Homo sapiens: one gene and its partners. The protein of the gene in region 1 interacts with the protein of each later gene in a pairwise test. Each region holds a gene or a part of one and is shown in the gene's direction. Other genes may lie near its edges.

Evidence for each region.
Region 2: the proteins of BRICD5 (region 1) and SCN3B interact in binary tests that used the Homo sapiens proteins (3 or more experiments, as listed by UniProt).
Region 3: the proteins of BRICD5 (region 1) and AQP6 interact in binary tests that used the Homo sapiens proteins (3 or more experiments, as listed by UniProt).

The regions. Positions count from the first base shown.
Region 1 is NC_000016.10:2,209,028-2,212,844, reverse strand, and holds BRICD5 (BRICHOS domain-containing protein 5), read left to right. Parts: upstream 1-1,981; 5' UTR 1,982-2,011; coding exon 2,012-2,062; exon of another isoform or gene 2,063-2,151; coding exon of another isoform or gene 2,152-2,194; coding exon 2,195-2,323; intron 2,324-2,563; coding exon 2,564-2,719; coding exon of another isoform or gene 2,720-2,793; coding exon 2,794-2,895; intron 2,896-3,138; coding exon 3,139-3,292; coding exon of another isoform or gene 3,293-3,388; coding exon 3,389-3,483; 3' UTR 3,484-3,592; downstream 3,593-3,817.
Region 2 is NC_000011.10:123,640,890-123,644,706, reverse strand, and holds part of SCN3B (sodium channel regulatory subunit beta-3 precursor), read left to right. Parts: intron 1-2,035; coding exon 2,036-2,261; intron 2,262-3,232; exon of another isoform or gene 3,233-3,740; intron 3,741-3,817. UniProt on the Homo sapiens protein: Regulatory subunit of multiple voltage-gated sodium (Nav) channels directly mediating the depolarization of excitable membranes.
Region 3 is NC_000012.12:49,970,922-49,974,521, forward strand, and holds the start of AQP6 (aquaporin-6), read left to right. Parts: upstream 1-2,025; 5' UTR 2,026-2,252; coding exon 2,253-2,654; intron 2,655-3,402; coding exon 3,403-3,561; intron 3,562-3,600. UniProt on the Homo sapiens protein: Aquaporins form homotetrameric transmembrane channels, with each monomer independently mediating water transport across the plasma membrane along its osmotic gradient.

The DNA.
Region 1 (3,817 bases):
AAATTCCACTGAAGGAGCCTCTGTGCCCTGCAGCCGGCAGCGCGGCTGAAGCATGTGTTGGCCAAGGAATGCCTGTCATCCAGGTGCCCTGCAGCCAGCAGCGCGGCTCAAGCATGTGTTGGCCAAGGAATGCCTGTCAGTCATCCAGGGCTCTGGGAGGGGACGAGAGTTATGTCCCCAAGAACAGGAAGTCCTTTACAAAGCATCCAGTCTCTTCCTGTCCTCCCCTTCCCTAGGCTGGGGTAGGGGTTAGAGACTGGTGGCCCAGGAGGTCACCTGCCTTGCCCTGGATTCCCTCTTCAGTGGCCAGCAGGACTTGGCAGGGCCACCAGCTCGCCAAGGTTCTGGGCGGGGCTCCAGCCTCTCCTGCCTGCTCCTTGGCTCTGCTGACCTTTCACAGGCCTGACAGCAGACTCAGCAGGGCCATCCCGGGATGCTGCACCTTCTGGCTGGCTCCCTACCAGCGCCTTTCCCTGTACCTGGCAGCTTCTCTCTTGGCCCCACAGTCACAGCACTCCACTTGGTCACAAAGACTTCAGAGCAATAAGAGGCGTCCTGAGCCTTCAGCACCTCCCAGGCCTGGGATATCGGGTTCAGAGGGTGCTGCAGAGCAGCATGAGGGTGGCTCCACCCATGAGGCTGGTGACACTGACGCTGGCTTGGCTAAGTTGGCTCAAGCCGGGTCTGGCCTGACAGGGTGCAGTCACACCAGGAGCGCATGGCAGATGCAGCCTCAGTGATGCCTCTCTTGCCGGGTAGGGGCTGGGAGTCCCCGTGCATCCTGTCTCTGGCCCATGAGGGGCTGCAGCACTGTGGGCGCCAGAGCACAGATTAAACTCTCAAACCCACACTGGCTCAGGTGTCCTTGCTCTCACCTTGCATTGGCCCGGGTGATGCCGTCTCACCACGGGTGGGAGGACTCAAAGTAGATGGGTAACTGGGGTTCCAACTCCAGAGCTGGAATGCCAACTGCCCACTCCCAGCCTGGTTCAGAGGAAGATGTTTTGAAGAATGAGGGAAAGCCAGGCACAAAGGGAAGCCAGGGAAGCAAAGGGCCCTGGAGTGAAGCTGGTGGGCTGCCGTGTCAGAGCGCCCAGGGCAGGGAGCAGAGCTCAGAAGTAATGCTGGCCCGGGCGCAGTGGCTCACACCCGTAATCCCAACGCTTTGGAAGGCTGAGGCAGGTGGATTACTTGAGATCAGGAGTTCAAGACCAGCCTGGCCAAAATGGTGAAAACCCATCTCTACTAAAAATACAAAAATTAGCGGGACTTGGTGGCATGTATCTGTAATCCCAGCTACTAGGGAGGCTGAGGCATGAGAATTGTGTGAACCCGGGAGGCAGAGGTTGCAGTGAGCTGAGATCACGCCACTGCACTCCAGCCTGGGGGACACAGCGAGACTCCGTCTCAAAAAAAAAAAAGTTGGGCTAGGCGGGCCCCCGAGGCTGGCCTGACTGTCCCAGGGGCACAGGCTCCAGCAGGCTGCCTGTCTGTGGTCCAGGCTTCAGGAACCCCCGGTCTTGGGTGTGCGGGGGCTGGGAAGTGGCTGGGGGTGCACAGTCCCACACCTGTCATTCACTGAACAGGCACGTATTGACAGCTTGTGGCGTGTCAGGCCCTGTGCCCAACTCTGGGAGTCAAGGATAACCTGACAGACTCAGGCCACTTTAGGAAAACGAAATCCACCCCAACCACACTTAGCGAGTCACCCTGGCCGGGCCTGGGCTGCCCTCCAGTCGGTCAGCCGGACTGGATTTCCACGCGGCCGAGCCCTACGCCTCCCAGACCCTGAGCTCCAGTCTGCACAGGCCAGGTGTCTGGAGCCGGGCCTGGTGACAGGCATCCCCCAGGTGGGAGGAGGGGCTGTCCTGGCTCTGACCTGGATATCAGATCCAGAGCTGAGGGGGAGGCGCAGGGTCAGGAGGGGAGGGGTTCTGTTCTGAGTTTCCCCTGGCCAAGGCTGCAGACAAGGGACGCAGACAATCGGCACATTGTGAGCAGGGGCTGCAGGATGGAACCAGCAAGCTGCTGTGCTGAGCGCCCCAAACCTGGGCCTACAGGGGTGAGTGCCTCCCGTTACTCCTGCAGCAAGGACCCAGGGGGTGCCCCAGGCCACCCAGCCCCTCCCTTCCCCAGCCCACTTGCTCCCTGATGTCTAACCCTCATGACCCTTCTGACCCTGATGCACGCCCAGGTGAAGACCAAGCCCTCCTGCGGGGGCTGGAGAGCCGTGAGCCTGCTCCTGCTGCTGCTGCTGCTGGTGCTGGCCGCTGTGGGGGTTGTGGCTGGAGGGCTTCTTGGCTCTGCTCAGGGCCCTCCCAAGGTGAGCCCCTCCTCAGCACCAGGGACATGGACAGTGGAAAGGGAGAAGGGAAGCTGGCATATCCCAGCCTCCAGCAGAGCAAGGGTGCGGAGCAGGCAGTGACACCACCTAGGAGCAGACAGCCAGAGGACCAAGGGGTGGAAGGGCCCACTCAGGGGTGTCAGGAGTCCTGCAGCCCAGAGCTGGAGGCTGTGCTGGGGTTGCACAGCTGCCCGGCTGAACTCCAACTCCCACTGCCAGCCAAGGCTGCAGACGCTGCGAATGACCCTCCCGAGCCCCCACATGCCCCGGCCCAACCAAACCATCCTGGTGGACGTGGCCCGGAACGCGGCGACCATCACAGTGACCCCACCTCAGAGCAACCACAGCTGGGCGGTGCTGTTCGACGGGCAGAGCGTGAGTGGGCAGGGAGGGGTCACCCTGGCAGGTGTCGGTCTGGGGGGCCCCGCCTCACCCCCCTGCCTCCCCAGGGCTGCATCTGTTACCGCCCTGAGGAGCACCAGGTCTGCTTCCTCCGCCTGATGGAGGACAGTGATCGGGAGACCCTGCGGCTGCTGGTGGATACCTCCAAGGTGAGCCGTCCTGCTGGGCGCAGGCCCGGGCCAGGGGCTAGACAAAGGGTCCTGTGTGCAGCCCAGTACGGGACAGGCTGGAGCTGTGGTTTCAGGGAACAGGAAGCTCTCTCCGCCCTAAGCCCAGGCTGCTGACAAGAGCTGAGGGTGGGGACATCACTGGGGGTTGGAGGGTACCCGGCCCTGCCAAGCCAGGAGCAGGGAGCAGCCCTGTCCCACCGCCCACCAGAGCCTTCTCAACAGGTCCAAGAGGCTTGGGTCCCCAGCCAGGACACCCACCACACCCAGGAGCTGCTGGCAGTGCAGGGGAGCCTCGAAGTGGACCCCGCCCAGGCGGGGGCTTTGGTGCAGCGCCTGTGCATGAGGACCCCCATCTACTGGGCCCGGCGAGCAGAGGGTGAGTCAGGACCGCTGTGGGGGAAGGCCAGGCCCTCGGGATGGTTTGAGGAGCTGGGGGCGGAGCCCTTGGAGATTCACGGCACCCTCGCCACAGGGCCCCGGAGACAGCGGCTGATTTATCTCTGCATCGACATCTGCTTCCCGAGCAACATCTGCGTGTCGGTCTGCTTTTATTACCTCCCAGACTGAGCCCCCGACCTGGCCCAGCCTGGCCCGTCCCCAATCCAGTGGGCTGGCCAGGCCACCTGCACCAGGGAGGACAGCTGCTGGCAGGGACTAATAAACCCTTCCACCTGGCCATGGTGGTGGTGTTCTCTATGGACCGAGGCCCTGAAACGCGGGCAGGGAGGGGCAGAGAACACACTAGCTTGGGGGTGGGCACCAGCCTCAGACCCCTCAGCAGCTTTGGGCCCTCGGCCGACTTTCCCAGGCAGTGCAGGCTAGCCCAGTCCAGGAGTGTGCAGCCTGGCTTGGGTCGAGCTCTGTCACATCTGGATAAGCAACTGGGGGCTGAGAGTCCCAG
Region 2 (3,817 bases), on another chromosome or scaffold:
CTCCACCTCCCAGATTCAAGCGATTCTCCCACCTCAGCCTCCCCAGTAGCTGGGACTATAGGCACCACCACCATGCCCAGCTAATTTTGGTATTTTTAGTAGAGACAGAGTTTTGCCATGTTGGCCAGGCTGGTCTCAAACTCCTGACCTCAGGTGATCCACCCACCTCGGCCTCCCAAAGTGCTGGGATTCCAGGTGTGAGCCACCGTGCCTGGTCGGCTGTCATATATTTTGAATACCACCTTGGAGATGACCATTATTTACTCCTTCACTGACTGTGGAGCCAGGCCACCTGGGTTTGATTCTTGACTTCACACTTATTATCACCTCTGTGTCCTTGGACATGTTGGTCATCCTTTCTGTGCCTCGGTTTCCTCATTTTTAAAGTGGGGATATAAAGCATAGCCAAATTATAGGGCTGTTACCAGGACTCATGAGCTATAATTTTTAATGCATTAAAAATAGTTTCTGGAATATAGTAAGCACTGGTAAATGTTTGCTAGAGAAAAGATAGACACAGAAATGAGGAAACTGAGGCTCAAAGAAGTTAAGTTAATAACTAAGACAGCTTTGACTTGAGCCAGGTGGTCTAACAGCAGATACAAGGCCCTTTTTACGGCACTGCTTTGCCTTCCTGGGGGCAAGTTTCTCCTCCACAAAGATTTGTAACAGAGACAATGGAAGGGCGAAACTGGGTTTAGCTTGCTCTTCTTTCTCACTATCCTAAAGCCGAACCCATTTCTAACTCTAGCTTCTATGTGCCATTCTGATGCAGATTTGCAACCGTCTGGTACTAAGACTGGGACCAGCGGAGACTTCCCAGAGCCTGGCTCAGGTGTGACAGTGACACGTCAATGAAGCTGCAACTGAGGCTAGCCCCCAGCTGCAGGAGGCTGGATGTCTTGGCCAGATGCAAAGGCCCCCAGGGCCTTCAGGCCTGGTCATGTACCAGTGATAGCTGCCCACATTGCTTCCAGGCCTGCCCAAAGTGAGGAAAAGGTGGATCAGAAGAAGAAGAAAATGAAAAATAAAACGGCAACAGCAAAACATCCATGGAAATCCACAGCAAGGCTGTCTCATAGAAATGTTTGTGATGGTGGAAACCTTCTCTATCTGTGCTGTGCGATACAGTGGCCACCAGCCACATGTGGCTATGAATAATTGAAATGTGGCCAGTGCCACTGAGGAACTGAATTTTACATTGTATTTAACTTCTAAGAAATTGAATTTAAGTAGCTACATGTGGCTAGTGGAGACTAGAATAGCCAGCACAGCTGTAGAGAGAGAATGGCACATAGAAGCTAGAGTCAGAAATGAGTTTGGCTGTTATGTCAGAGGGTGGAAGTGTTGAGGAAAGAAATTTAAAAGATGATATTTTAGTTAAAATTCAGTCCAAAGCAAAAGATGTGACGTGTGCCTCTCTGGTGATGGCTCTCTGCTCATCTGCCATGCTTCAGCATCCTGGGCCTCCTTCCTGTGGCCTGGCCCAGACTGTCCTACAGCCCCTGATGAGTACCAGCACAGAGAGTCCAGTTTTAAAGCCAGGGCTTTCATATGTCTTCATTACTAATGAATCTGCCTGTCTTGCTGTCTCTACCTTGTTCTCTTGCCAGCGGCTCTGGGACACATCTTACTCTCTTGTTCTCTCTATCTTTTTACAATCCTGTCTTTCTCTCAATGTCCGTCTCCTGGGCTCCCATACTCTTCTCCCGCCTGCCTTTGTTCTCCCTCTTTCCACCCCTTTTTTTCTGCCAAGCTTCTTCCTACACGCCCGTGGCTGCCTCTGTCCTCACCACGTCCACATGCCCTGATGCCTGCTGCCTCTGCCTGTCCTTCCCTGTCTTTGCTCCCTTCCCTACCCTCCTCTGTGCCTCTTCATCCCACCCCCACATTCTGGGTCTCCCGGTGGCATTGTCCCCTCTCTTCCCTGTCCATGCACAATTCTGCTCCTTTTCTCTGCCCTGTCCCTAACTCGGCTTCCCCCCACTGCCATCTCCTTTCCTGGCCCTACCCTCTTCTGCTCCTCTATCTGCAGATTTACGAGTATCGGAATGGCCACCAGGAGGTGGAGAGCCCCTTTCAGGGGCGCCTGCAGTGGAATGGCAGCAAGGACCTGCAGGACGTGTCCATCACTGTGCTCAACGTCACTCTGAACGACTCTGGCCTCTACACCTGCAATGTGTCCCGGGAGTTTGAGTTTGAGGCGCATCGGCCCTTTGTGAAGACGACGCGGCTGATCCCCCTAAGAGTCACCGAGGAGGGTGAGGCTGAGGCACAGGGTCTCTAGGGCGTCCTGCTCTCTGTGGACAGGGAAGGGTAGGACAGCAGTTTTCCACGAGTGAGGCCCTTAAAGAGTGCAAAAACCCATGTATTTGGAATGGTGACATCTAAAAATGTCACCATTGACCCATCTTCTTCTGGTGGCCAGCTTCCTGTAAATTCCCTAAGCAGCTTGTCTTTCTGTGCCTTTCCTCAAAGCAGAAAGGCTTGGAGATGATAGAATGAGCTCTTCCTGGTCCCTTAGAGAAAGAGGCTAGCCTCCATGAGGCCTAAAGCTACTGATTCAGCTAGGCCTTCTTCTTTGGCCTATGTTGAATCCCTGACTCAGTGGGCTCAGAGAAATCTCATGAGGTTACCCGGAAGTCATCTCTCCTTCTACCTGTAAGCAATACATGCCTCTAAGCCAGGGGTTCTCAAACTTTAGCAAACCTCAAAATCTCCTGCAGGGCTTTTTGGAAGCCAGCCTTTCTGCTTTTGTCGGTGGAGCCTGAGAGTTTGCACTGCGTGACACACTGCCTGGCGGGCAGTGCTGCTGCTGGGACCACACCTTGAGAACCTCTCTCTAAACCAAAGTTTGACAATCTTTTTTTCTTTTGTCTTTCTTCACAGTAATCACACGTGCAACCTCTTCCCCATCTGTGGCATCTCTTATTACATAAATTCATTCCCTGCTGGGAGAAGGGGACAGGTTGATAGCTCTCTAGTCTTGTTTAAAATCTTTGGACTCCTACAGCTAGTTCCGTGTTCGTGAGTGGGAAGGCCTTTCAGCAGCCTAACTCAGGTGTTTCTGTTGCAACCGGAGTCCTGCATCCTGAGGGGGGAGTTCCAGCCTTTCTCAGTCTATCTCCAGCATTATCACTGCTAGTGAGCAGGCCAAAGTGTGGGGCATGAAGGAAAAGATCAAGTTAAAGACAGGGCTCTTCCTAGAAAAAAGGATCCAGGAATCCCAACCTCCAGGCCACAGGTTTATTCATTTTTTATCATGTCGTTGTGATAAAAATAATGAAGCGGAGATTCAGTCCTCAGAGTGAATGAACAAAGGAGAAAGAGACATAACGGATCAGACGATATGACTAAAATGGAAGGTAGGTCAATTCTGAAAGTGCAGAGGGACTCTCAGGGCTCCTGAATCCAGACCTGATGAGTCACTTCCCTGCTCGGAGCCCCGCTCCTCTGGTGTGAAATGAAGGGGTTGGCGGGGGGCTCTCTGAGGTACTCCCCTGTTCTGAAGTTCCTTTATCCCCCGTTTGTTACACGCCTTTCCTCTGGGGGGTGGGGCCCTGGCGCCCTCTCCTGGTCACCATCTGGAACTTTTGGTTGGTGCCCGCCAGACCTTAGCACAGTGCTCAGCCGTCTCCACCTCTGCTCTCTCGGGCTTTTGCCTCCAGACACCCTCGTGCATAGCTGGTGGGAAGTGTGGCAAGGCTGAGCTAGTTCGTCTGCCAGGTACCAGAGCAAGCCTCGGGTAAAAACAGAAGGAAAAACAAGTTTATTATCAGAGCCACAGAGCCTCGTGGATGGTCGGGTGTGAAGGAAG
Region 3 (3,600 bases), on another chromosome or scaffold:
TGGCAAGAGCCTGCTCAGGGTGAGATGCCCAGGAGTTCCCTGGAGAGGACATGGTGAAGTCGAGACAGCAGGGAGAACAGAAGGAAATGGGTGAGGGATGTTACTGGGACTCAGACAGGGACTGGGGAGGAACAGAGCCTGTAGTCCAGAGTTAAGATGTTTCTCTTGAAGATATCAGAGGGCTCAGTCCCAGTTGGGGGAAGGTATGAGTATGAGGCTGAAATGCAGCAGACATAGTCATCTGCCCCGGGAAGTCAAGAAGTTTTTATTCATTCATTCAACAAATATTTATTGGGCAGTTACTGTGCCAATCTCTGTGCAAGACACTACATGCAGGGGTGAACAAAACTTGGTTCCCGCCCCCCAAAGGCCTCCCCGCCTTGCCTCACTGGGGAGACACATTCACACCATGACAACACCCTGTGGTGACTGCAGTGTAGGAGAATGCCCAGGTGTGGTGGGAGCACGCAGAAGGGTCCCCACCCAGGAAAGGAGCAAGCGACGTCAAAGCTGAGCCTTTGGAATGGGAGTTACCCAAGCAAAGGGAGTGCAAGGGATCTCCAAGAAGAGGAGAGAGCTTTTTCCAAGGAGAGGCCAGCAAGAGTGTGCATTTGGTGAAACCAGAGGGTAACAGAGTGGGGAGAGGTGAGGGAGAGCTGCAGGGTCCCTGAAGGCAGGCACAGAGCTTCCAGAGGGATGGGAGGCTTGGAAGGGATTTTAGCAGGGGAGCAGCATGATCAGATTTGCATTTTAGCACTTGGGCTGCAGTATGGAAAATTGATTGAAACGGAGCAAGGGAGCAGACAGAGAGACTGGTGAAAGGCTGCAGGGCGGCAGGGGTGGCAAAAAGAGGGCACAGTCAGGAGATATTTAGGATTGAAAATCAGCAGGACTTGATGCTTTTCCTGGATGGGGGAAGGAGGGAGAAAAGGGTCAAGGATGCTTCCCAGATGCCACCAGCTGAGCTGCAGAAAACAAGAGGAGAACATGGGGGTTGGGGGGGGTACCAGGAGACAGGAGGATCACATCTGGAGACAGATTGCGTTTGAGGAGCCTGAGAACAACCAGGGGACATCTGTAGGCAGGTAGATATGCCAGGGATGAGGTCAGGACACCCAGCTACGGTGAAGAGGGGAAGACTGTTATTTCAATAGCTTGGCAGACTCTTCTTAGGGAGGAACACTTTTGTTTGAGAAGATACCTTGCTATCTGCTAGGGTTAAAAGGGGAAAGCCTAGGGCATGGGTGACCATAGGGCCAGGGAAAGCCTAGGGCATGGGTGACCATAGGGCCAGTGCAGCCACAAAAAATGGTTAAGCTGCCTTGTGTGAGAAAGGAGTGAAATCTGTTTGGCCCCTGAGAGGAGGAGAGCAGAGACGGAGGAGCCAAGAAGGGAGGGGAGCGCGGGGGAGGGCAGGGAGGCAGGAGGAAGTGAGTGAAGGGCCAGTGGAAATTTCCCCTGGTGGACAGCAGAGGTGCCCATGGCCTTGTGTGATCTGACGCGGTTTGAGTCGCTGTGGAATAAACCCCTTCTCCACCCGCCCCTCTGCAACCCCACAGGCCACAGTGTCCACAGCGTCCTTGGTAAAGTCGACTGTATTCACATCTGCATTCTGTGAGTGCGGGTATAGGTGGGAGTGGAGGAGGGAACTTACTTTCTGGGTTTACGGGCACGGTGTGGTGTCAGCCCATTTGGAAGCAAAGCCTAGATATGGAGGGGGCCAGACGAACAGGACCTGGGAATGCACAGGACCCCCTGAAGCAGGCCGGGGATCTGAGTGATCTTGCTGTATCTAAGCTGACATTGGAACATGAACAGTCTGAAATCCCATGAGCCCCGCTGCCCTGCACCTGCGACCCTCAGGCTAGACCTTGGACTGTCTACAACACGAGTCAGGCCCAACCCGCCCTGGAAATCATCGTAGGAGGTTCCAGCTCAGTGCCCAGAGACAGCCCCCACATCCCACCCCATCAGGTCAGCTCAGGCTGGAGCAGGCATATGAGCAACACCCCTCATTCCACCCCCATACACATGCATAAGCCCATCCGCCTGCGCCCTGCCAGTCTGACCAGCACAGTCCTGGGGACAGGAGCGTGGTGGAGGAGCTGCAGGTGGGGGCCAGAGAAGCCTCCACAGAGAGCAAAAGCCAGGGTCAGCCAGAGACAGGACACCAGAAGAGACAGGAGATCAGAGACCAGAGGAACAGAGAAGAGGCCCCAGAGCAAGGCAAGGAACGGCCAAGGCACCAGGACATGGATGCAGTGGAGCCAGGGGGACGTGGCTGGGCCAGCATGTTGGCGTGCAGGCTTTGGAAAGCCATCAGCAGGGCGCTGTTTGCAGAGTTCCTGGCCACGGGGCTGTATGTGTTCTTTGGCGTGGGCTCAGTCATGCGCTGGCCCACAGCACTTCCCTCCGTGCTACAGATTGCCATCACCTTCAACCTGGTCACCGCCATGGCTGTGCAGGTCACCTGGAAGGCCAGCGGGGCCCACGCCAACCCCGCCGTGACGCTGGCCTTCCTCGTAGGCTCCCACATCTCTCTGCCCCGTGCTGTGGCCTATGTGGCTGCCCAGCTGGTGGGGGCCACGGTGGGGGCTGCTCTGCTTTATGGGGTCATGCCGGGAGACATCCGAGAGACCCTTGGGATCAACGTGGTAGGTGCAGGGAGGGGCACCTGGAGGGCCAGGAGGCGGGAATGCGCACAAGTGGTGAAGGTGGAGGCCAGGACGGAGGCGAGGGAGCAAAGGAGGAAACAAGTCAGCTGCAGGCTCCACATCCTCCCGGGCTGGGCCCCAGGACCCAGAGGACTGAGACTTTGACCTCAGTCTAGGCAGAATAGAAATGGGATAGTGGCGCGAAGAACAGGTGGAGAAGGAAGAGGCCACATAAAGGAGAAGGAATAGAAGGACCAGGCGTTTAAGGGTAGATGCGGCCAAGGGAGTGCGGGGCCTGTGGGTAGAGAAGGGGACCCCACGGGGACTTCATTTTTCTCCCAGGCTCCACCCACGTCCTCTGCTCTCCGACTGTTCCCAAGTTCTTCCCTCCACCTCGAGGCCTGCCTCACTCGCCCCTTCTCCATTTCGTAACCATCTGTGTTCCACCTTCTTCCCCCAAATCTCCTCCTTCCACACCTGCTGCCAGTCTCCTCTCAAGCAAGCCTCCTGAACCACTGGCCCCAACCAACCCACTGGTGGGGTGGGAGGAGCACCACTCACTTCTGCAGGGAGCAAGGGTCCAGAGCAGATATGGACCCCTCTGCACAGGCCTCCCGAAGTCCTGAAGCTGGGCGGCAGTGAGGTGTCACCCCCCTCCAGCTGAGGAGACCAGGCCCAGTGGCAGGGGTTTCTCTGTCTGTCCGTGGGCAGAGCCCGCGTCTGGTCCAGAGTAACTCCCTCTGTCCAGGTCCGGAACAGTGTCTCAACTGGCCAGGCGGTGGCAGTGGAGCTGCTTCTGACCCTGCAGCTGGTGCTCTGTGTCTTCGCTTCCACCGACAGCCGTCAGACATCAGGCTCCCCGGCCACCATGATTGGGATCTCTGTGGCACTGGGCCACCTCATTGGGGTAAGGAACAGAGGGGACACCGTGCACATGCACACACCG